3 separate regions of the Homo sapiens genome follow, and all the other regions are linked to region 3. The links come from fine-mapping of genetic effects on gene expression. A gene starts in region 3. Each other region holds a variant in brackets. All regions are shown on one strand. Distances are between the middles of the regions. Region 1 overlaps PYHIN1 (pyrin and HIN domain family member 1). Region 2 overlaps MNDA (myeloid cell nuclear differentiation antigen). Region 3 holds the start of PYHIN1 (pyrin and HIN domain family member 1).

What was found. PIP is the estimated chance that this variant, and not a neighbour inherited with it, causes the effect. A credible set is the group of variants that fine-mapping cannot tell apart.
Region 1: its variant is the best candidate, but not a certain one, in a credible set for the expression of PYHIN1 in whole blood (TOPMed, PIP 0.74).
Region 2: its variant is the best candidate, but not a certain one, in a credible set for the expression of PYHIN1 in whole blood (INTERVAL, PIP 0.74).

The regions. Positions count from the first base shown.
Region 1 is chr1:158,974,385-158,982,591 of GRCh38, reverse strand. PYHIN1 (pyrin and HIN domain family member 1) reads right to left here. Exons shown (of 9, transcript NM_152501.5): 9 at 5,533-5,891. Among named protein-coding and RNA genes, the nearest start is that of PYDC5, 24 kb to the left of the region's middle. The variant T/C (reference allele first, on the strand shown) is at 3,868.
Region 2 is chr1:158,845,358-158,853,564 of GRCh38, reverse strand. It overlaps MNDA (myeloid cell nuclear differentiation antigen), which reads right to left. Exons shown (of 7, transcript NM_002432.3): 5 at 7,562-7,978; 6 at 5,649-5,837; 7 at 4,063-4,375. The coding sequence ends at 4,328. Among named protein-coding and RNA genes, the nearest start is that of MNDA, 18 kb to the right of the region's middle. The variant A/G (reference allele first, on the strand shown) is at 3,942.
Region 3 is chr1:158,927,722-158,935,928 of GRCh38, reverse strand. PYHIN1 (pyrin and HIN domain family member 1) reads right to left here and starts at 4,377. Exons shown (of 9, transcript NM_152501.5): 1 at 4,153-4,377.

The DNA.
Region 1 (8,207 bases), 47 kb before region 3:
CACAAAGCTGGAGGCATCACACTATCCAAATTCAAACTATACTACAAAGTTACAGTCACCAAAGTAGCATGGTGCTAGAACAAAACAGATACATAGACCAATGGAACAGGTTAGAGAACCCAGAAATAAAGCTGCACACCTACAACCATTGGATCTTCAACAAAGTTGACAATAACAAGTAATGGAAACAGTACTTCCTATTCAACAAGCAGTGTCAGGATAACTGGCTGGTTATATACAGAAAATTAAAACTGGAACCCTTCCTTTCACCATATAAAAAATCTACTCAATATAAAGTTAAAAAAAACTTATATATGTAAAACCTAAAACTGTAAATGCCCTAGAAGAAATCTAGGAAATACTATTCTGGACATTAGCCTTGGCAAAGACTTCATGACAAAGACTCCAAAAGCAAATGTAGCAACAACAACAAAAATTGACAAGTGAGATCTAATTAAAGATCTTCTGTACAGCAAATTAGACTATCAACAGAATAAAAAGATAGTCTACAGAATGGGAGAAAGTATTTGCAAACTATGATTTCTGAGAAAGGTCTAATATCTAGACTCTATAAGGAACTTAAATCAACAAGCAAAAACCAAACAGTTTCATTAAAAATGGTTAAAAGCCATGAATAGATCTTTCTCAAAAGAGGATCCATGCAACTAACAAGCATGTGAAAAATGCTCAATATCACTAATCATTAGAGAAATGCAAATCAAAACTACAGGGAGATACCAGCTCACACCAGTCAGAATAGCTGCTATTAAAAAGTCAAAAAATAACTGATGCTGGTGAGGTTGTAGAGAAAAGGGAACATTTATACATTGAGGGTGGAAATGCCAATTATATGCCATATTTTTTTATATGGTGAAAGGAAGAGGTCCAGTTTTAATTTTCTTCATACAGCTAGCCAGTGATCCTGATGCTATTTGCTGAATACTTCAGCGACTGTTGAAAACAGTTTGGAGATTTCTCAAATAACTTAAAACAGAACTAACATTTGACCCAGCAATCCCATTACTGGTATATACCCAAAGGAATATAAATTGTTCTACTAAAAGATACGTGCTTGTATATGGTTTCTTTGTTTGTTTGTTTATTTATTTCTTTATCTTTTGATTCAGAGTCTCGCTCTTGTCCCCCAGGCTGGAGTGCAATGGCACAATCTTGGCTTACTGCAACCACTGCCTCCCAGGTTCAAGCGATTCTCCTGCCCCAGGCTCCCAAGTAGCTGAGACTACAGGTGCCTGCCACCACAAAAGGCTAAGTTTTTGTATTTTTAGTAGAGACAGGGTTTCACCATGTTGGCCAGGCTGGTCTCGAACTCCTGACCTCAGATGATCCACCCACCTCAGCCTCCCAAAGTACATGTGTATGCTTATTGCACTTTTCATAATAGTAATGACATGGAATCAATCTAGATGGCCATTAACAGTGGTTTAGATAAAGCAAATGTGGTACGTATACAACATGGTACACTACGGAGCCATAAAAATACAAAATCATTACTGGGGGAACCTGACTCCAATATTTCAATGTAGGTTCTTTCTATTTTCCACAAGTGTCAGCCAGCTGAGAAATAAAGACAGTACAAAGAGGAATTTTACAGCTGGGCCACGAGGGGTGACTTCATGTATCGGTAGGACCATGATGCCCGCCTGAGTCTCAGACCAGCAAGTTTTTGTTAAGGGTTTCAAAAGGGAGGGGGTGTAAGAACAGGGAGTAGGTACAAAGATAACATGCTTTAAAGGGCAAAAAGCAGAACCACTAGTAAAGGTCTAACAAAGATCACATACTTCTGAGGGAACGGGACAAAGGGTAAAAGCAGAACCACTGATAAGCGTCTATGTTCAGCGGTGCATGTATTGTCTTGATAAACATCTTAAACAACAGAACACAGGGTTCGAGAGCAGAGAACCGGTCTGACCACAAATTTACCAGGGCAGAGTTTCCCCAACCCTAGTAAGCCTGAGGGTTCTGCAGGAGACCAGGGTGTATCTCAGTCCTTATCTCAACTGCACAAGTCAGACATTCCCAGAGCAGCCATTTATAGATCTCTCCCCAGGAACGCATTCCATTCCCAGGGTATTAATATTAACATTCCTTGCTAGGAAAAGAATTTAGCAATATCTTTCCTACTTGCACATCCATTTATAGGCTGTCTGCAAGAAGAAAAATACGGCTCGTTTTGCCCAAACCCGCAGGCAGTCAGAGCTTACGGTTGTCTTCCCTAAAAATCGCTACTATTCTGTTCTTTTTCAAGATGCACTGATTTCATATTTTTCAAACTCACATGTTTTACAATCAATCTGTACAGTTAACAATTATCACAGTGGTCCTGAGATAAGATACATCCTCAGCTTATGAAGATAACAGGATTAAAAGATTTAAGTAAGGACAAGCATAAGAAATTATAAAAGTATTATTTGGGAACTGATAAATGTCCACAAAATCTTCACAATTTATGTTCCTCTGCTGTGGCTCCAGCCAGTCCCTCCATTTGGGGTCCCTGACTTCCTGCAACAAATCATGTCCTTTGCAGGAACATAGATGCAGCTGCAAGGCATTATCTGAAGCAAAATAACACAGGAACAGAAAACCAAATACCACTTGTTCTTACTAATAAGTAGGAGCTAAACATTGAGTACACAAGGACACAAAAAGAAGCACAATAGACACTGGTGGTTTACTTAAAGGTCGAGGGTGGGAGGAGGGTGAAGACTGAAAAACTACCTATCAGGTACTGTGCTTACTACCTAGGTGACAAAATCATTTGTATGCCAATCCCAGCAACATGTAATGTATTGATGTAACAAACCTGCACATGTAGCCCCTAAATCTAAAATAAAAGTTGGAAGAAAAAAATATGAATACCATATGACCCAAGATTTATTCTTCTTGGTATTTATGCAAAATAATTAAAATAGGAGTTGAAGAGATATTACTAGCGCTCCCATGTACATTACAGTATTATTCAAAATAGACAAGATGTGAAAACTACCTAAATGTCCCAGTTTTGAATGAATAGATAAGAAAATGTGGTGTGTATATATAATGGAATGTTATTCTTTCTTAATGAAGGAAATTCTGCAATAGTTACAGCATGAATGAAATTCTGCAATAGTTACAGCATGAATAAAACTTGAGGGCATTATGCTAAGTGTAATAAGCCACTCATAAGAGAATAAATACTGCATGAGTCCACTTATGTAGAGTATCTATAATAGCCAAACTTACAGGAGCAGAAAATAAAATGGTGGTTAGCTGGGGCTGGAGGAAGGGGGAAATGGAAGCTGCTATTCGATGGGTATACAACTTCAGATATGCCAGATGAATAAGCTCTGTAGATCTGCTGCACAACACTGTGCTTATAGTTCCTAATACTGTATTGTAAACTTGAAATTTGTTAAGTGGTTGATCTCACGTGCTCTTATCATCATAAAATTCTAATACATGCCTCACTATGTGGTTTTAGAGAAATAATGTTGCTAACAGTGTTGGATTTGCCTCTTCCAATCATAATCATTTGCTAATACACTAGAGATCCTCTCAGAGCTATTTCACTGCCTCTTGCAGAGAACCACTTGGTACAAACTGATCTCTAAGATGTCTATGAGGGTAGGTTAGATCTCTGTGAGCTGTTCTGTCTTTCTCTTTGGTTCACACATTTCAAAGTTAGGGGAAGCCCCAGATTCTCACCTACTTGTGGTCCCAAGTAGGAGCTCTGATGTGTAGTAAGATATAAAAATATAAGATAGAGTGGGGTCAAGGCATTAGAGGTTGACGCTGTTTAAATTAAAACACAGTGAACAGGCTAATTCTTTCGGGTGGAAGATAATTTCTTTCCTATCTCATTTACAGACA[T/C]GACTGTCCTTAGAAGTTAAAATTTCAGGGAGAAATCAGCAAACACATTAGACAAAGCACCTAAATGACCCATTCTCTAACTGTTAATTACCATCATCTACATACTCAAGAGTGGTCCATTATACCTAGTTTATGTAAAGTAATATGAATATTATGTATTTGAGTAGCTCAGAATACCAATATCATTTGCATATAAAGCAGTTATTTTCTCAGTGTCCATAAGTCAAATTTGAATTTGGAGGATGTTTTAGCAGTTTGTGACATCTTCTCAAGATGAAATCTGTTTCCTAACTAGCTGAATGATGTGATTTTGACCACTTCACTCAATCTCTGAATTTCAGTTTTTTCACTGCACATGAGGAAAAAATTCGGTGGCTTCAAAACATCCTTCAAAATTTGATTTTCCCAAGTGAACCAAATTATCATATATATATATATATATATATATATGTATAGACACACACACACATATGAATATTAGCAATGATATTTGGCAATAAAGAATGTCTGAAAAAACTTATTCATGGTATCTGAATCTATCATACTTTCTTACCTTTATGTCTGATAAAAGACATAATCGGAAAGGTGCAGGGCAAGAGGAAAAAAAAACTACATTTATTCCTTGGATTGTTGGTCCAAACCATAAAGGCAGAACTTTAATGCCTCTTTTCCTTAGATTAATTGGGCATATATAGCTTCAGATCACCACAGTTCTCTGATGAGTACAGAAGATTGCTATTTTGCATTTATCTACTTTTTCATAATTTTAAGGGTGAGAGTGAGGCTCTTTTCAGCTTTCTCCATCTTAGGTGGAATCCGTCTTATTCATTGTTTAATTTGCATCTTATCCCTGTTCTCCTAACATTAGCACACCTAACCCAAGCCAGAACAACAGACCTGGATGTTAAATCAAGGACTATATAAGACCACCTAAGTGTCACTTCGAAAGTAAATTTGCTTTCTGTGCCCTTTTTTCTTTATATATGGAGAGTAAAAAGGAGAAAACTGTCAACCTTCTAGAGCTACGGTGAAGATTAAATGACACAAAATAATTACACCAGGTGCCAAATATATGATCCATAAATACATTGTAAGTTTTAGATACTGACTTTCTGCCATTCTACTCTAAAATAAATTAATTATTCTTCAGTTTGCCTAAGTTAACTGTCTGCCTGGGCAACTTTCTGATGGATTCATATAGTGGAATGTGAGAAGAGGGAATATGGTGGGAGAGCTCCTGAGGAGCTGTTGGTGCTGAAGGAAATGTATAGAACCAGATAATTTACATCAAACAGGGCCAGGAATTCCTCTAACATAGGCAAGTGCCTTCATGCACATCACCAGAAAGTGCCTGGTTTGGCAAGAAAATTACCCAATTATTCCCCCTCCAGGAGTCCAATTCTGAAAAGATATCTCTAGTTTTGGCTAGAGCAACTCCTTCCCAGGACACAGTGCTTGCAACAGAATCACAGGCTGGATTTCACCCCTACCTGCCCCTTGGTCTGGATTCTTTGGGCAGGGCACAGTCAGTTCAGTCTTAACCAGGGCCTATTCCTTAAAGATCCCATCCAAACTATAAATCTGTGTGCCCCACCCTGACTTGCAGGCCACAGTTTATTTGCTTTTACATAACTCACAGATAGATTAAAGAAACTCCTATGGAAGCACTCTTTAAGAAAAAAAAGTTTATTTTTTTTCAAATTATGAAAATTCTGAATGCAAAATATGATATGAAGAAAATGCATAAAAGTAAAACTAATGAAATAAAATGCACCCTTAATACTCCATTTCCTAGAATTAATAGCTGGTATATATATATATATATATATATATATATATATATATATATATATATAGTATTTCAACCAGATATATATACATATATTATTTTCTGTGCTTTGATCTTATCTTCATAAACATCATTACCAATGGCATCAGGTTTTTAGGTGGAGGACTTCAGGCAAAATTTCCACACTTGAGTAAAGATTGAACAGTAGTTATTTGATATCCTTGTCCTTGGTGACCTTGAAGCATAAAGAGATAAAAATAAACCCGTTGAGATGCAGGGAGTCATACATTTCTTTCTTCAATCACACTGCCTCTCCTCCCTGTGAGCCACATCTCTTCTTCTATTTCCATCTGAAGCACTCTTTTCTCATTCTCATCTATCTCCTTTAATGAATCCTGTCCTTGGAGTCACATCTTCCCCCTCTGTTGGGACCATGAAATGCGATATTCACTCCTACCCAGCATGAGCCCACGTGAAAGGGCAGGAGATGTCAGGGAACAATAAGATAGAGAAAGGAGCTGGTGTGTCCAACGACAAGGGCTAAAGGGAAACTTCTCATTGGGCAGAAAGGTAGGAGGAGCGTACAAAATGTATTCCTGGTGCAACTGCTGTCAAGGAAGGCTTGGGACTTTTGACTAATGGCCCTGAGAACTGGAGCAATCAGAAAGCCTTTGCATTTTTGTGTGTCTGAATGTGTTAGCCTTTATTCTGATCTTTTTGCATTCCAATATTAGCCTTTATTTGTTCCAAGAATCCCACATGAATATATGTGACAAACAGCATAAACTTTGTCATGTAGATCCAACCATCTCTGTCTACACAGAGATGTTTCTCACAAAAGACAGCTACCTTTGTGTTCTGATTTGCTTAGGGACATCCTTGGTAATTTAGGACTGTTATGAGGTATGTTGGCCACCCTCAAATTTAACTCCCTCTTCTGTTCATTGTGTACCACAAATAATTGAATGAGCTAATATGTGAAACAATTGGATTATAAAGGATTAATGAAGATAATTATTGAAAAACCCTTAGAATAGTCTGAGTCATTCTGCATACTCAGTAAATGAGAGACATCATTATTTCCATTCTATTAGGTACTTTTAGTCACATCCACTGTTTTAACAACTATGTCTCTATTGATGTAATTCAGTAAAAGGCCCAGCCAAAATTACCCAAGTTTAAGCTCTATATATCAGATGGATAATTCTTAGATGTCCTGTGGGAATCTCAAACTTAACTTGTCTAGAGCAGAACACGTTTTTTCCCTGGAACATGGTCTTTCTACTGTGCTCATAAGAGGTGTATTGAAGAGTAAATGCAATCATATACATAAAAACATAACTTTCACTTCCAGCTTTACCCAGTAGAAGCTCAGTTAGAAAAATATTGTTTTCATTGTTATTTAAAGACTATGCAAGTTTTTTATGTCAGCCTGATCCAGAAATGAATTATGATTTATGTTGATCCTCTTGTGGAAAACCCAGATAAAGTTGTAGTGATTGGGAATAAAACTAATAGCTTCGTTTTTTCCCATATAGTAATTCTGAGCCAGTAATATCTCCATTTGTTTTCCCAACCATTCTGGGCTCTTTGATTTAGGAGAGTCATGACAAAAGATGAAAAATAAGAATGGTCTGCTTTTGACTTTAAATCCAAAAGCATAGAAAAATTTATACAAATTAATAATTAATACAAACACAGTATTATTGGGATGATCTATGATATACAAAAGCAAGGACTTCTTTCAGAGCTAGTGAATCACAGAGGAAGTAACAGGATGTATTTTCCAGGCATCCTGTGGAAGTGCTAGATATCAAAGAAGAAATGGCTATATGGGAGGTTAGGTGTAGGAGACATAGGACCCTAGCTGAGATTCCTGGGCTAAGGGAGGTTTAGATGCAGTCAAATAAATCTAACGGCTATAGAAACAGACCATAATGCGTATTTAAAATGGTAGAACCTAGGCAAACTTTGCGTAGTCCCTTCAAAGCCAAAATGCAGGAAAAATAAGTTCTTTTCCAGAATGTTGTCCTGGGATGTTCAATTATGTCTATTAAGTAACAGAAAAGTGGGTCTGAGCTGGTAATGACTACATATGCGTTCCATCCATGGTCACCTAAGCCAAGATGGCTAAAGAGGACGTGCTAGCTTTGACTCTCAAATAAATTACATATAATTTATTGAGGAAAATGTGATTCTCGGGCTTATCAAAAACAACAAAAACATAAACAAACCAAAAAACGACCACAAATTGAGAACTCCTGTATATAGGTAATCTGTCTTCAACTAGTCTGTATGGTGACATGTCTTCAACTAAAAGAGTGGTGACATGATTCTCCTCTTGCCTTTCTCTTTCATCACCTTCCCTCTCACTGTAGATCATAGTCTTCTGTTCCCTAGGTGGAGGTGACTCCACTGGTCATATCATGACCAAAAGCAGGCTGGGATTCAATTGGAACACTTAGATATAAATTCATTAGTTCACCTTTGTCTGATGTTCTCTGGACAAGAAATCTATAAACTGTACTTATTATCAAGTGTGGTTGAAAAA
Region 2 (8,207 bases), 82 kb after region 3:
TATTTTTTAAAGTTCATTTCTGGCTGTTGCAAATGCATATAAGTTGGATTTATATACTGATCTCACTTTCTATCTTGATTAATTTTACTTTAGTAGTTTTCTTATTTTATTTGTTATAATTTTTTGCAGATAATTAACATATATGAATAGAGTTTATAGACAAACAATTCTTTTCTAATCTTTTTTTATTTTATTTATTGTTATACTAGATAAGAACCTCAGCTACATGGTAGGATAGAAGTGAAGTGATCATCCACCTTTTTTTGTTGCTGCTGATCCTAAACGGCGAGAAGGTAGTCTTTCATCAACATTAATTAGCTATAGTTTATTTGTTGCTGCCGTTGTGAGGTAGTGAGCATAGTACCCAACTAATAGTTTTTCAATCCACATCCTCCCCTCTCTCTCCCTCTTTAGTACTCCACAGTGTCTATTATTTCCATTTTTATGTCCATGTGTACTCCCTGCTTAGCTCCCATTTATAAGTGAGAACATGCAATATTTGGTTTTCCGTTCCTGCCTTAATTTGCTTAGGATAATGGCCTCCAGCTCCATCCATGTTGCTTCAGAGGACATGGTCTCATTCTTTTTTATGGCTTCATAATACTGCATGGTGTATATGTACTATATTTTCTTTATTCAGTCCACAACTGATGGGAATCTAAGTTGATTCCACGTCCTTGCTATTGTAAATAGCGTGGCAATGAACATACAAGTGCACATGTCTTTTTGGTATAATGATCTTATTTCCCTTTGAGTATATACCCAGTAATGAAATTGTTGGGTTGAATGGTAGTTGTGTTTTAAGTTATTTGAGAAATCTCCAAACTGCTTTCCACAGTGGTTGAACTAATTTACATTCCCACCACCACTCTATAAGCATTCTCTTTTCTCCTCAGCTTTGCCAGTCTCTGTTGCTTTTTGGCTTTTTAATAATCATCATTCTGATTGGTGTGAGATAGTATCTCATTGTAGTTTTAATTTGCATTTCTCTGATAAACAGTGATGATGAGCATTATTTCATATGTTTGTTGGCTACTCGTATGTCTTCTTTTGATAAGTGACTATTCATGTCCTTTGCCCATTTTTAATGGAGTTTGTTGTTTTTTGCTTGTTATTTTAAGTTCCTTATAGATTCTGGATATTAGACCTTTGTCAGATGCATAGTTTGTGAATATTTTCTCCCATTTTGTAGATTCTCTGTTTACCCTGTTGACAGTTTCTTTTGCTGCATAGAACCTCTTTAGTTTAATTAGATCCTACTTATCATTTTATGTTTTTGTTGCAATTGCGTTTAGGAACTTAACTAAAAAATTTATTCAAGGTGGATGTTAAGAGGGGTATTTCCTGGGTTTTCTTCCAGGATTTTTGTAGTTTGAGGTCTTACACTGAAATCTTTAATCCATTTTGAGTTAATTTATACATGTTGAAAGGTAAGTGTCTAGTTTCATTGTTCTGCATATGGCTGGTCAGTTACTGAATTTACTGAATAGGGAGTTCACTTACTGAACAGAGAGTCCTTTCCCTCTTGTTTGTTTTTGTCCACCTTGTCAAATATCAGATGGTTATAAGTGTTCAGCTTTATTTCAGAATTTTCTATTCTCCTCCATTGGTCTGTGTCTGTTTTTGCACCAGTACCATGCAGTTTTGATTACTGTAGTCTTATAGTAGAGTTTGAAGTTGGGTAATGTAATGCCTCCAATTTTGTTCTTTTTGCTTAGGATTGCTTTGGCTATTTGGGCTCTTTTTTGGTTCCATATAAATTTTAAAATAGGCATTTTCTAATTCTGTGAAGAATGACATTGGTAGCTTAATAGGAGTAGCATTAACTCTGTAAATTGCTTTGGGCAGTATAGTCATTTTAACAATATTGATTCTTCCAATCCATGAGCATGAAATATTTTTTCATTTATTTCTGTCATCTCTGATTTCTTTCAGCAGTGCTTTGTAGTTCTTGTAGAGATTTTTCACCTCCCTGGTTAGCTGTATTCCCAGATATTTCCTTTTCTTTGTGGCTATTGTAAATGGGATTGTGTTCTTGATTTGACTCTCAGCCTGGGTATTATTGGTGTATAGAAATGCTATTAATTTTTGTATGTTAATTTTGTACCCTGAAAGCTTACTAAAATATTTTATCAGTTTTAGTAGCATTTTGACATAGTCTCTAGAATTTTCTAAGTATAGAATCATATCATCAGCAAAGAGAGATAATTTGATTTCTTCTTCTCTTATTCAGATGCCTTTACTTCTCTCTCTTGCCTGATTGCTCTGGCTAGGACTTCTGTCACTATGCTGAATAGAAGTGGTAAGAATGGGCATCCTTGTCTTGTTCCTAATTTTAGAGGAAACACTTTCAACTTTTTATCATTGAGTGTGATGTTAGCTATGTACTTGTGATAATTGGCCTTTATTGTGTTGAGGTACATTACTTCTTTATCTAATTTGTCTATAAGTTTTACCATGAAAGGATGTTGAATTTTGTCAAATGCTTTTTTTTGCACTGATTGAGATGATCATATGTTTCTTGTCCTTCATTCTGCTAACATACATTATGTATCAGATTGGCTGATTTTCATATGTTGAATGATTCTTATATCTCAAGGATAGATCCTACTTTATCATAGCGTATAATCCTCTTAATGTGCCATTGTATTTGGTTTCCTAGTGTTGAGGATTTTTTTCACATATGCTCATAAAGTATATTGGCCTATATATATTTTTTTCTTGTAGTGTTCTTGTGCAGCCTTACTATCAGGGTATTGCTGACTTCATATAAAAAGAGTGTGAAAGTGTTCCCTCCTCTTTGATTTTTTTGAAATAATTTGTGAAAAATTGGAGTCAATTATTCCATAAATGTTTGGTAGAATTCACCCTTGAAGTGATCAGGTTTTTGGCATTTTGTTGTTGTTGTTGGAAGTTTCTTGATGACTGATTTAATCTCCTTGTTTGTCATTTGTTTTTTTCGGGTGTTCTGTTTCTTCTTAATTCAGTCTTTGTAGGTTTGGCCTTTGTTTTTCTTTTTTTCAGTTCCCTGAGGCATTTGGTTGTTTACTCGAGAGCTTTCTTTTTTAAGGTAAATGCTTATAACTATAAATTTTCCTCTTAGAACTCCTTTTGCTGTATCTCATACATTTTAGTATATTGTGGTTTCATTTTCATTTGTCTCATTTTTTTAATTACCCTTTTAATTTCTTCTTTGATCCATTGGCTATACAGAAGCATGTTTTTAAATTTTCACATATATGTCAGTTTTCCAGTTGTTTATTTGTTATTTATATCTAGGTTAATTCTATAATAATCAGAAAAGATGCTCGTTATAATTTTATTCTTCTGGAATTCATTAAGACTTGTTTTGTGACCTAGAATGTGACATGTTGTGGTCAATGCTCCATGCATACTTGAGGCAAATGTGTATTTTGATGGTGTTGTGTAGAATGTTCTGTTTATATCTGTTAGGTCCGTTGGTGTATTGAGTTGTTGATGTCTGCTATTATCTTATTGAATAACTGCCTGGATAATCTCTTCATTATTGTGAGTACTAAAGTCTCTTACTATTACATTGCTGTATATTTCTCCCCTCAGAACTGTCAATGTTTGTTTTATGTTTTTAGTTGCTCTGATTTTGAATACATATGTAGATGTATCTACAAGTCAGAAAAATGGAATATGATGGATATGATAATCCACACCAAATAAGGAGGGGAAAGCATCTTGCATATATTGGTACCTTTATGCAAATCACCGTTGTTGTCCCCTTCAGAGAAACCAATTACCCCAACGGCCCCCTTCTGGAGGACACAGTTGCATAAAGGAATCCTTTCCTCTAGATCTGCTACTTCCCTAGGCCACAGTATTTGTTCATTTAAGCATGGGCTACATAAATTTAGTCACAGCCTTTACTGCGGACTTATCCTCTGAAGATCACAATATAGACTCCAATGTGG[A/G]TAAGGCCCCATGTGTCTCTCCCCATCTCTAGAATGTGCTTCACAATGCACAAAGTACTCAGCCTCAAGCAGCTCACTATTGATCTTAACAGAACGTAGACAAGACTTTGGGAAAATAATGTCCTTCAAAAAAAGATATTTTATTTTTTGCCTCGTGAATGTCATAAAAGCAAAATGTAATATCTAAAAAAAAGGAAGAGTATAAGAAGAAAATTTTATTCCAGAAAGCAAACTAATCTATAACTCAGTTATAAAAGCTCTTAATATGCTAGAATATATCTACTGAAACATCATTTAAATGAATTACTGAAATTTACAAAATCACAGTTATTAACAACTTAATTGTTTTAAGCGGAAGTTGTTTGTTGCATTTCAGCTTTCATATTTCAATTAACATTCATTGGTCCTTCCTTGTTTTTCTTGGCCTTGATGACCTTTAAAGAGAGATAAGAAAGACATAATGAGACCCTAGATATTGAAATGAAGCTCTGCTTATAGTTCTCCTTTCACCTGCCATATCTTTTCTTCCCATTGGCTACATTATTCTCCTTATCCCCTATGAAAGCTCGTTAGTCACAAAGTTATGAAGATCTACCTTCAAAAAACTCATTTTCCCCCCATTAACTAATCTCTGTTTGTCTTTTTCCTTCCTGAATGGATTTTTGAAATAAACTTCTGTGGTATCCTGGTTAACCAACTACCCATTTTTTTTTAAAAGTTTCGATTTGTAACATTTGCAGAGTCTGGTGGCATACATATTTTCACATGGCTGATTTCAAACTACCACATGTTTAGCAAGCAGTGCATATAATTCCTGAATTTCCAACAGTAAGCTCTCTTCAGTAAGGATATGAGTGAATCCAGCACACAACTTCTAATAGATATCTCTGCCCCAAGCCTAATTGCTCTGTAATGCAACTCCATAGATAGACACCGGAATATTTTTTGCTAAAATATCAAAGTGATCAGGCATTCTTCTGCATAATTTTGTTTCAATTTTTCATGTATTTTCAACAATAAAGTTTCCATTAATTTACTTTTGAAAAAGCCACACTTCTATTTCTTTTTCATCTTTGGGCCTCAGTAGTCCCTTTTTTTTAATCTTTGGGTCCCACAGTCTTCTGCATCTACTGAATTTCAGTTGTACAGAACTCATTACGCTATGTCACACTTTTGGAATTTTCATGTATCATTTCCTTTGCCTAAAAGTCCCTCCAATTTTTACCTTCCTAAAAATAAAACTATCTACCACAGATCAGTTTATTATGATGTGCCAGGTTGTGAGATAATTAATATGTATACATTGTCTGAATGTTTAAACCATCCCAATGAAGTGGAGACTTCCATTATTTTAGAGGACCAATGAAACTGTTTCCCCAATATCAGCCAACTAGTGCTTCTTAAATCCAGGATTCAAATCAGATCTGTCTTATTCAGAACCCTTGCTCTTGAGCCCTATGTTCCCTGCCGCTAGACACATCTTTAAATCAATTAACACTAGTATTGTATCCTTTCTAGAGCTGTATGAATGCCTTTACCTTAATATCCTTCTGAAAATCTTCCAGTTACAAATGCAAGGGCATTGTTTAGGTTCTCCTTCCACTCGCTGGACTCTCTGAGTAATACATGAGGAACCTGGTGTTCCCAAAGCCTAAGCAAAATTATTTGCCTCTTTAGCAAACTCATTCTCCTCTATCCAGTTCCCACCTTGATGAAGCTGTGACTTCCACACACCAGTTTCAGCTTGCGGTCAACTGTTCTCAGTTGAAGGCAGAAGAGTCGAAGTTTATCTCCTTTCTCACACTTGATATTGTGCCATTTTCCACTCCCCACTACATCCATGGATCCTGTATTATCCTGTATTTCATAAATTGTGTTCTTCTTGTGTACGCTTTTCTGCAAAAGAAGATTAACATCCTGTTTCTGAGAGGATTGTTAGTATCATATAGATGAGAAAGAGTCTCATGACAAAGTTAATGCAATATGCACGACAGGAATGACAGGTACAGATCATACATGTGGCTTGGCCTGCCATCTCACAGGGTCCATCTTTTATTATCCAGCATTTTTTTTTCCTGCTTAAGGTATTTTTCTTTCTGCAATTATACAACAATAAATATTTCCCTCTTTTTCTCCTGCTACCACCTTCAGATCAGCTGAGAGTAAATAAAGCACCTAGATATAGAGGAATCAAAAATTCCTATAGAACTTCTTGGCTCATGGTCCTGTGGAAAAACAAATGTATGCTTTCTACAATTATTCATTCAGTAGATTATGAGGAATTTCACTTTATTATTATTTTAATTTTTAAAAATTTCAATAGCTTTTGGGGTACAAATGGTTTTGGGTTACATGGATTAATTATATGGCGGTGAATTCTGAGATTTTAGGGCAGCCATTACCCAAGTAGTGTACATTGTACCCAATATATAGTTTTGTATCCCTCACCTCCCTCCCAGCCTCCCGCTTCTGAGTCTTGAAAGTTTATTAGATCACTCTGTATGCCTTTGTGTACTCATAGCTTAGCTCCTCCTTACAAGTGAGAACATACAATATTTGGTTTTCCACTCCTGAGTTACTTCAGATTATGAGAAATTTTAAAGGAAAAATCTTCTATAACACAATCATTCATTCTTTCTCAGCCTTCCTCATTACTTATTCTTTTCCAATATCTTGTCCCCATTGACCTAACTCCCTCCATTCATACTCTGTAGTGTTTCACACACTTAAGCTATTACTCATCAATTCTGTAATTGCATTTATAAGCAAGATCTCTTAAAGAGAGTGTGAGAAAATGTGGAGGTAAATTTAAGGGGCTATATTGAAAGACATGTATGTAGGGTTATAAAGCAGTCAATCATATAAAATGTTAGTTGAGTTCATAGAAATGTGTAATGTTTTAGAGTGGAGAAAGGGATGGAATGCATTATCCTAACTAGCATCTTGAATTTGGACATGGACATATCAATAAAACTCTGTGCCTTGGAATTATTTTTTTTTTGTAAATAGTATGAAGAGATTGCCTTATCCTTTAAGTATCATGGAATTCAATATTTCTCAGTTGTTCAATGCTATCTTCATAAATAAATGAATAAATAAATAAGATAGAAGGGCAACTGATCTAAGCACAAATGTTTAGATTGTATGGATAGCTGTTGAATGTATTTGCATTTATGAGCATACCAGCCAATCCACTTATTACTCCAAAATTATGTCACAACCAGAATTCAACCTTGGTAGCACAATTCATTACTTAAAATAAATTTATCAAAACTCACAGTAAAATTATCAGTGCTCATTGGGATGGAGCTGAAAGAGATGATGTTATTAGCTTGCTCCCGTTGATTTGGACCCTGTATTGTCCTAGTTCATTGTGGCTGACAACAGATCATTACTGCCAATATTTCTTACTAACTTTTTTTCAAAGTCCCTACATTTATTTTGGCGTAAGAAAGTTAATAGGTCACTTAGTCCTATTTCCTATTTTGTGGGACAACTTCATCACTATCTCTAGTCAATATAAATTCTTGTGTTCCAATATTCAGACAGTAAGTCTGGCAAATTAAGACATTTATTTCCAGGTAATGGTAGAGAAAATTAAAACAAAATTAAGGGTTTACCTTTTGTAACATAAACAACCCATACACCATTGTTCCAGATGCTTGCTTGTAAAGTTGACTGATCTTGGGAGTTTTATTTGCTATTTCGATAATTCTGTTTGGGACCTCAAAATTTTGATTAAAGTCAGACACAGATGATGCTTCCTTTATTTCCATTACTCCTTTACATTCAGAGTAATCAGATATGGTAATGACCTTCTTCCTTACAAATTTCTCTTTCAAGTTGATGTCGAAGACTTTCACATGGAAATATTGAGTCTTACTGGCCACTGTAGCATGAAACATTGTGCTTTTCCCATTTTCTGGGGACTCGTATTTAAATGGCGCTGTTGCTTTCAGTACCACCACTGTCACTGGGTCGTTTTGGGGAACATTTCTTCTTGCATCCACCTGCCGTTGGGCCTGGGTTTCCTGATTCTGTGTTGGGCAGACACAAGAAAATAAACTTAAAACTTTGAGCAGGAGGCCGGGCGCGGTGGCTCACGCCTGTAATCCTAGCACTTTGGGAAGCCGAGGCGGGTGGATCACGAGGTCAGAAGATCGAGACCATCCTGGCTAACATGGTGAAACCCCCATCTCTACTAAAAATACAAAAAAAACTAGCCGGGCGTTGTAGCGGGCGTCTGTAGTCCCAGCTACTCGGGAG
Region 3 (8,207 bases):
TGAATTGGGTCCAGGTGTTAGAGGGAGGTCTGTGAACAAGCAATTGTCTCAGTGTTTAGAGTATGGGCTGTGGAGTGTCAAAGTGCTTGGTTGCTCTTCCCATCCTTTACTGGGGCTGGAGCCTATCCCCCAAAACCTGCCTGTTGTTTCTTAAATCTTCCCACACCCACCACTATGACTGGAGTGGCCTAGGTGTAAATGGGCTGCAGCCTCCCACCTTATATGAATAACTTTCTGCCGCAGCACTACAGTTTCATGCTGGGGCGCCGACCCTATTCTCCTTAACTCTTCTCTTGTCAGCTCTCATCAGTATCCTCTTCCTTGGTGTTGGACCCTGCCATATTTGTCCTCTGTGCCCATAAAACTATCACTTTCCTGAACATCTACATTTTCTCTATTGCAGGAACACAGGATTTATTGGCTGGAATATTTCAATAGTTGCTTGATTTTTCTTTTAGGCTTGATTTGTCTAATTCATTTTCATTTCACAGATCCACATTTCTCTCTATAAACCACATTTTTATCCCACTGAAATCTTTCAATATTTGCCCATTTTCTTTTCAATACATTCCTTGCTTCTTGTATTGTTTCAGAAGACTTTGAATAATCTGCATTCTTTTTTTTTTTTTTTTTAACCTCTGGCACTTGTGTGTTCCTTATATCTTACATTTCAGAAGTATAAAACATTTTCATGCTTCATGACTTTGCTAATTCTCTTCTCATTGCCTGGAAAGCCATTCCCACATTCCTCTATCTGACTGCCTCTCCTACAACATTTTAGACTCAACTGAGAGTTTGTCTTCTAGAAATTTTCAGAGTGCCCTTATGGACAGAGTGTTACTCCTCTGGACCTCTTTAGCACCAGTGCACTTTAGCACATGATGACACTCAAAGCATGCTATGGATTCCTGTTTCCTTTTTAAATTAACATAGCGCTTTGGGAGGCTGAGGGAGGCAGTTCATGTGAGGTCAAGGGTTCAAGACCAGCCTGGCCAACATGGTGAAACCCCGTCTCTACTAAAAATACAAAAGTTAGCCAGGCATGGTGGTGGGTGCCTGTAATCCATAATCCAAGCTACTCAGGAGGCTGAGGCAACAGAATTGCTTGAACCCGGGAGGTGCAGTCTGCAGTGAGCAGATATCATGCCACTGCACTCCAGCCTGAGTGACAAGAGCAAAACTCCACCTCGATAAAAATAAATACAAAAACAAATATTTTAATTATAGAAAACATGTATTTGTGTACCTCTTGTGTAATTTAGATATTTAAATTCCTGGGGCTGTTAATTGCTTTCTTCTTGAGAGAACATGAGTGTCCTCAGATTGATAAGCATAGAATGAAGGAAAAAATATATACAAAGACATATAGTGAAACTGAAGAACATAAAAAACAAATAAATACTCCATAAGCCTCCGAGAATGAAGGCTTTAGATCACCTGCAAAGATCCAAAAATTAGATTGAAACTGATTCTCAACAACAAATCTACTTGAAAGAGGAGAATGGAATCATTTTTATATAATGCTGGCCCAAAGTCCCATATAAATTGCTAAACAAAAAGTTTAGAAATGGGAAGTTTTGATTTGTTTTGTGAGTATGACAACACGATTTATTTGCAAAATGAAACCAGATGTGAGCTTACAGAAGGCTATGTATGATTTTTATTTATTCCACTTAAACACAAATATTCATATGTTTTGATGCTGAAATATTAGTGCTTTTGCTTTTGTAGTAATGACACTGATAACACTGGGGTTTCTAGAAAAATGTGCATTAAGTAATCTTTATAAACCTCCAAGTTCTGATTTTCAAAACATACCGAGCCCCCCAGGTACAAAAGAAATGCTCTCATCTTGTCTTGAAGGAAAAAATAATTTTAAAACTAGAATTTCAATCTAAACAAAGTGATATTTAAACATAAGATCCTCAAAAACTATTCTCTGAACCTGAAGGCCTCAGTAGTTTTTCCAGACAAAGATGCACACAGAAACATTTTTGGAAGTACTTTTCAATAGAAAATTAAAAAAAAATTTTAAAAAGCTGCAGGCCAAAAGACAAGTAAGAATGAAAAACGAACTTGATTATGTGTGCCTATGACTTAAAAAGAAAGCCCTGATCAAAGAAAAGAGAAACAGAAAGTATACCAACATGGTGGAGGGAGGGAAGAAAAAGAATATGAGTTTACTAATGTAATTGTCTTAAAGGGTGAGATGGAAATATAAGTTTTAAAAACAGACAAGTAGGAGAATATAGAAGTGTTATAAATTGAAGTGAAGATAGCAGAAGCAGGCCAAAATATGTTAATTATTAGCCTATACATAAAGAGGTTAACTAGTTAAATGACAACTTTTATCAAATTTGATTTAAAATTTCTATATGTATGTTGTCAGTAAAAGATCACTGAAAGATGAAAAAAAATTTAAATTATCATGCAAGGAGAAACTAGAAGAAAGCCAGCTTATCTATGCTAGAATCATTTTTAAAAGATCTTAAGACAAAGAGTATTATCAGATACCACATGGTAAAAGGTTGAATTCCTGGGAAGATACAATAATTTAAATTATAGATTTATCTAATAATAATAAATGTATATTATTTTTCATTATTGTATAGTCCTTCATGATAATATAATGTTATATAATATATTTATCTTCATATACACACATATGTACACGGTGCCACAAATATATATATTTATATGTGTATGTTTATGTTTGGAAACATGTATGCATGATCACATACACACATAATATACATTATACAACTATGCATGTGAGCATATCTATATATTATATATATGAATTTGAGAGGAGTACAAGAAAATACCGTCTTATAATAGGAGGTTCTATATTATATCTTCCAATACTAAATGAACAAGGTAAAAAAACATTTTTACAAATTTGAGCAACATAATTGATAGCAATATTTATCTAACATATATAAATCCTGAAATCAACATTTAAAATCTCATATTCTAGTCAAGTACACTGAGATATTGCACCAGGCTATACAGAAAGTCTTCTAAAAATTCTGAACTTTGACAATATAAATCTATTTCAAATTGACTTCCATGCCTCTCCCCTATACATTGCCACTAGAAAAATAAAACATCATTAACTTTCAGGAGGGCAGGAAGTAATCTTAAAATGAATAAAAAACTGCCTTTCACATCTGGTATAGAATGATGCTAATGTAAAAGTTAAACATACTTATGAAAATATTGACACATTTGAATTATTTGAATTATTTGAATAATTGTGTTTGCAAAATGGATACATTTTCTACTATGTGTTTGCACTTGTAGAATAATATTATTTACAAAATGTTCTCACATATGTTTTTGTGTGAGAACATGTTTTGTAAAATTGAGATACCGTAAAATACAGCTGTATGTCTAGATGTGTTTTTTACTTAATATTATTTCCTGATACTTTGTGCACATCATTATCTTGTCTTATTTTATCTTCTACTTTCATTTTAGGTTCAGAGGGTACATGTGCAGGCTTGTTAAATGAGTAAACTGTGTGTCGCTGAGGCTTGTTGTCTGGTGATCCCATCACCAAGGTAGCGACATAGTACCAGATAGATAGCCTTCCAACCCACATACTGCTCCCACCTTTCCTCTCAAGCAGTCCCCAGCGTCTACCGTTCCCATCTTGTGCCCATATGGATTCAATGTTTAACTTCCACTTATAAGTGAGAACATGCAGTATTTGGTATTCCTGTGTTAGTTCACTTAGGGTAATGTTCTCTAGCCGTATCCATGTTATGCATATACAGCGTGGAATACTATGCATCCATAAAAAAGAATGAAATCATTATCTTGTCTTTTGCCCAGACCCCAATGGCCACCAAGCTTTCTAACCTCAGAGAATATATACTCAGAGAATTTGTTTTAAAATCTGCAATGGTCAAAATGCATATTCCTTCATTCATGCCCCAGTTGTAGAATAAAGGATATCTACTATCTTTGAAGTAAGTAAAGAATTGGAAGTATTAACTGCAGTTTTCACTTTTCTGAATATAGTTGATACCAGCCCTACTGCCCTCACCCCACTGCCCTGAAGAACCAATATCGATTTTTCCCTTGTGATTTTGTGGCTTTCAAGGAAGCATCTAGATCTTTTCTATAAAAAATACCCACAGTACTCACCTTACTGGGAATTTCTTCAACAGTAGTCCAGATCTTGAGATCTTCAGAAATGTAGGAAATGAGGATTGTTTTGAATAGGGAAATCAGTCAGTAAAGCTCTCAGAAACTGAAATACAGGATGTTATAATCTCCTGAAATGCTAAGAAAATGAAGTATTTTCAAAGACAACAAGGGAAAATGGCCCTTCTTAGAGTCACTTGACTAGTGCTGGCTTCCTCATACTCTGCTTTGCCCTGGGGAGAGAGAAGTTGTGAAACAACGTGCAGACTCCTCCCACCCATATTTTTTGCTTTCCATCCTGTTAGAGAAAATGAACAGTTTCTTTCCTGTAGGTATCTTAATCAAAGTAAAATTTGTATCAAAGTTATATTTAAAATTTTTTTTCTTACAAATGTTGATATCTGAATGGAGTTCCAATCTTAGAACTTTCTTAACCAGCAGACTTACATGTGGGACATTAGGGACCTCTATTCCGATGAATGATTGTCAAATATGAGAGAAGCAAGGTGGTTTCTTCTCCCTCCTTTCCTGTGCGGTTGCAGGGGGAGATCTTGGTAGGAGCATCTATTGCTACCAGTACTTTACTGCATCTCCTGCATGGGAGAATGTCTGCTATGAAATAGCAGTTGGTTTAAATACTACCTGAAGCATTCACCCAGTTATTAATAGTTGACAAACCTAGGGCTTTCCAGATCAGAAAGTTATTATGAATATATAAATCCTTTCTCAAATATATATAAAGGAGTTTAACACTAGCTGTCCTCTTGACTATGACTAGGTTATTTTACCTCAATGATTACATTCATGATTCCTCAGGTTTCCTTCATTATTCATGGAAAAACACAAGTGGATAGTGGGCTCACAACATGACAGCATCGAAGCCTTGAAAATCCTGGAAAATGCACTGAACTTCTGGTAGACCGAGAGTCCTGTTAAACCCTTTGCTCAGCAGTATTTTTTCTGTTAAGGGCAGTGGGTGTCCTTCAGAGTACTAAAACCCCAAGATGTCAAATAAACGACACCAACTGGCAGATGATGTTGTGTTAACCCAGCAGCAGATCTGCAAGCAGGATGTGGCCATGAGTGGAAAATGGGGCCCGAAATACAGCTGTAGGGGAGAAAACAAGTTTTTTTTAAATTTCCCTTTTTAGGTTATTAGTTGACACTCTCCTGAAAACAAACGTCAAATTAACAAAAGAAAAACAAGCAGTTTATTAATGTGTGCTCTACTCATCACAAGGGATAGGCCTCAGTTCAAAAGTATTTCTCTCTCCAGGCTGTGGCTTAGAAACCTTGTTTAAATAGTATTTCAATAAAGAGCCATACGTTCTATATAGTGAAAAGCAAAGGAGAAAGCAGTTCCAGTCATTTAAAAGGTGGGAAAACGTGGGAAGGTAGTAAAATCTGTTCCCAGATTCCTCAGGTTCCTGGTGGCGCCTTCTCCGGGCTGAAAAGCAAGTGCTTTCTCCAGTAAATACGGATTTATGTCCTGCCATCAGGCAAATAGTGCCTGAGGCAGCATGTTCCCCTCCATTTTCTGTCTTTAACTTAACAGTCCTAAGTATTTTGAGAAGTATTTTTGGTTTCCTTCACAAATAATACAAATGATCTGAGGCCATCTACAGAACAGAAGAAAGCTGATCGCCTTAGTACAAACTAGGGTCATGGAGAGGATAGTTGATGTCTGGATTTGGAGCCATATGATAATTTTATCAAAGCAAAAGTAAGTTAAGAAAAAGCAAGGAGGATCTGGAAGGATGGCCACAAAAATACCTTCGAGTGTTCATGGTTTTCTTTTATAGGTTTACGTTGCTGTTAATGTAGAGACACTAAGTTGGTCTTAAGATAGTAGGTAGAGAGGGATATTAGGAAGGTCAGGTTACCCCAATTCAAAGGTCAGAGAGTAGAGGAAACTTGGTAGAAATTACCATGTTTCAGGACATTTTTGTTTCCCCTTTTTGGTAATCATTTCATGTAGAGTAATGCCTTTGGTTAGGACTCCAGCATACAACATACAAATTACTGTCACCAATGAAGACAATTCAGAACATTGCTCCATAATCCATACTGTGCAGATAAAATTGTAATAGATGAAGCAAAGAAATGCTTTAAAAATGTGCATTTGTGCTGATTCTGAAGCAGTGGGCAATAATTTGCAATTTGTGCCATCACACAGAAAGCTCACTAATAGAACATACGAGAGCTCCTGATAAGGGGGTAAAAGTCTTGGATGGACCTTCATGACTTTTTATCATCTGAAGTACTAATTCCGATGCTCATTCAAAGTCCTCAGGAAAAGTTCCCACCCGATTAATGTTCTAACCAAGATGTTAGTAAATTACTGCCTGTGGGACAATACTAACACACCATCCACTTTTGTAAGTAAAATTTTATTGAAACACAACTGTGATTACTCACTTATGCATTGTCAATATCTACTTCATGGTGCAATGAAGAGTTGACTAGCAACAGAGTCCATCCGGCTGCAGAGTGTAAAGATTTTGCTGTATGGCTTATTATAGAAAACGTTTGTCAATCTGTACCCAGTCGTCAGTCTAGGAGACGGCAGAAAGCCTCTAAGGAGAAAAGCAAAAATAATTACTTATTTTTATTTTTGCTTTGTTAAATCAAAAGCAATGTTAAATCAAGTTTAGCCTAAAGCTGCCTTCTTACATATTCTAAGTTCAGCCTAAAGGTTTCTCATACAGCGTGAATGATGGCCTAAATGGAAGTGTAAACAGACTGTAGTATATGCTTGTGTCAATCACCAAGTTTTGGCCAATCAAATGTGGCCAACTTGTTCAAACCGCGTTCAAATAAGGCAAACTCCGAGCTATAACCAATCCAGCTCTTTATCTCATGTCCATTTTCTGTATCTCACTTTTCTTTTTCTCTTCATAAATCTTCCACTATGTGGCTGTGCTGGAGTCTCTGAGCCTACTCTGGCTTGGGAGGCTGCCTGAATAACATTCACTGCTCAGTTAAACTCTTTTAAATTTAAGTCAGCTGAAGCTTTTCTCTTACACAATCACACCAAGAAACCACGTTTGGGACTTTTAAAGTCCATTGTAAACCCCTGGATAAAGCCTTGTAATAATTATTGTGATCTCAGAGAGGAAAATGGAAATGGAGAGTGTTAAAACCTTTCTCTAATTATCCCTAAGAGTCAGAACAAAACCCATTTGTTGAGAGCCTCAGTTAGCAAGATTGCTTTATGCATTCATGGCCATCAGCCACCTCAATCAGGTGCCTTCTCCTTTTGTCTCTCAAGTAAATAGATTTCTCTTTCTCAAGGAAGAGGGAAAGGTGATTGAGTTTTAAATGTTGAACCAATCTTATATCCCTGAGATAAAACACTTTTAATGATGCATTATAATTTATCATATTGATAAGTATATTGGTAAGTATAATTTTTCAATATTTTAAAAGTGTTTTTGCATTTATTTTCATGTGAGAGTTGGTTTTTGTTTAGTTTCTGTCATATTGATAAGTATATTGGTAAGTATAATTTTTCAATATTTTAAAAGTGTTTTTGCATTTATTTTCATGTGAGAGTTGGTTTTTGTTTAGTTTCTGTCATATTGATAAGTATATTGGTAAGTATAATTTTTCAATATTTTAAAAGTGTTTTTGCATTTATTTTCATGTGAGAGTTGGTTTTTGTTTAGTTTCTGTGTAATATCTTTAATTTTGGTGTGACAGCAAACTGGCATTTCTAAAACAGATTGTATAGACATGGTAAACTTTTATCCTCAAATGTCTGATGGAATTCATAAAGTGTCTATTCCCAAAACTTTCACTACGGAAAGATTTTTGTTACAACTTCTCTTTCTCTAATAGATATAAAAATATTTAGTTGTTTTATTTCCTTACAAGACAGTTTTGGTAAGTTGTGTTTCACAGGATTTTTTTTGTAATACATTTTTGTTTTACAGGAATTACGTAAGTAAACTTATTTGCATAATATTTTTCATAATTTTTTATTACCATTTTAATATCTGTAGTGCCATCCCTTTACATTCCTGATACTGGCCATTTATATTATCCTCCCTTAT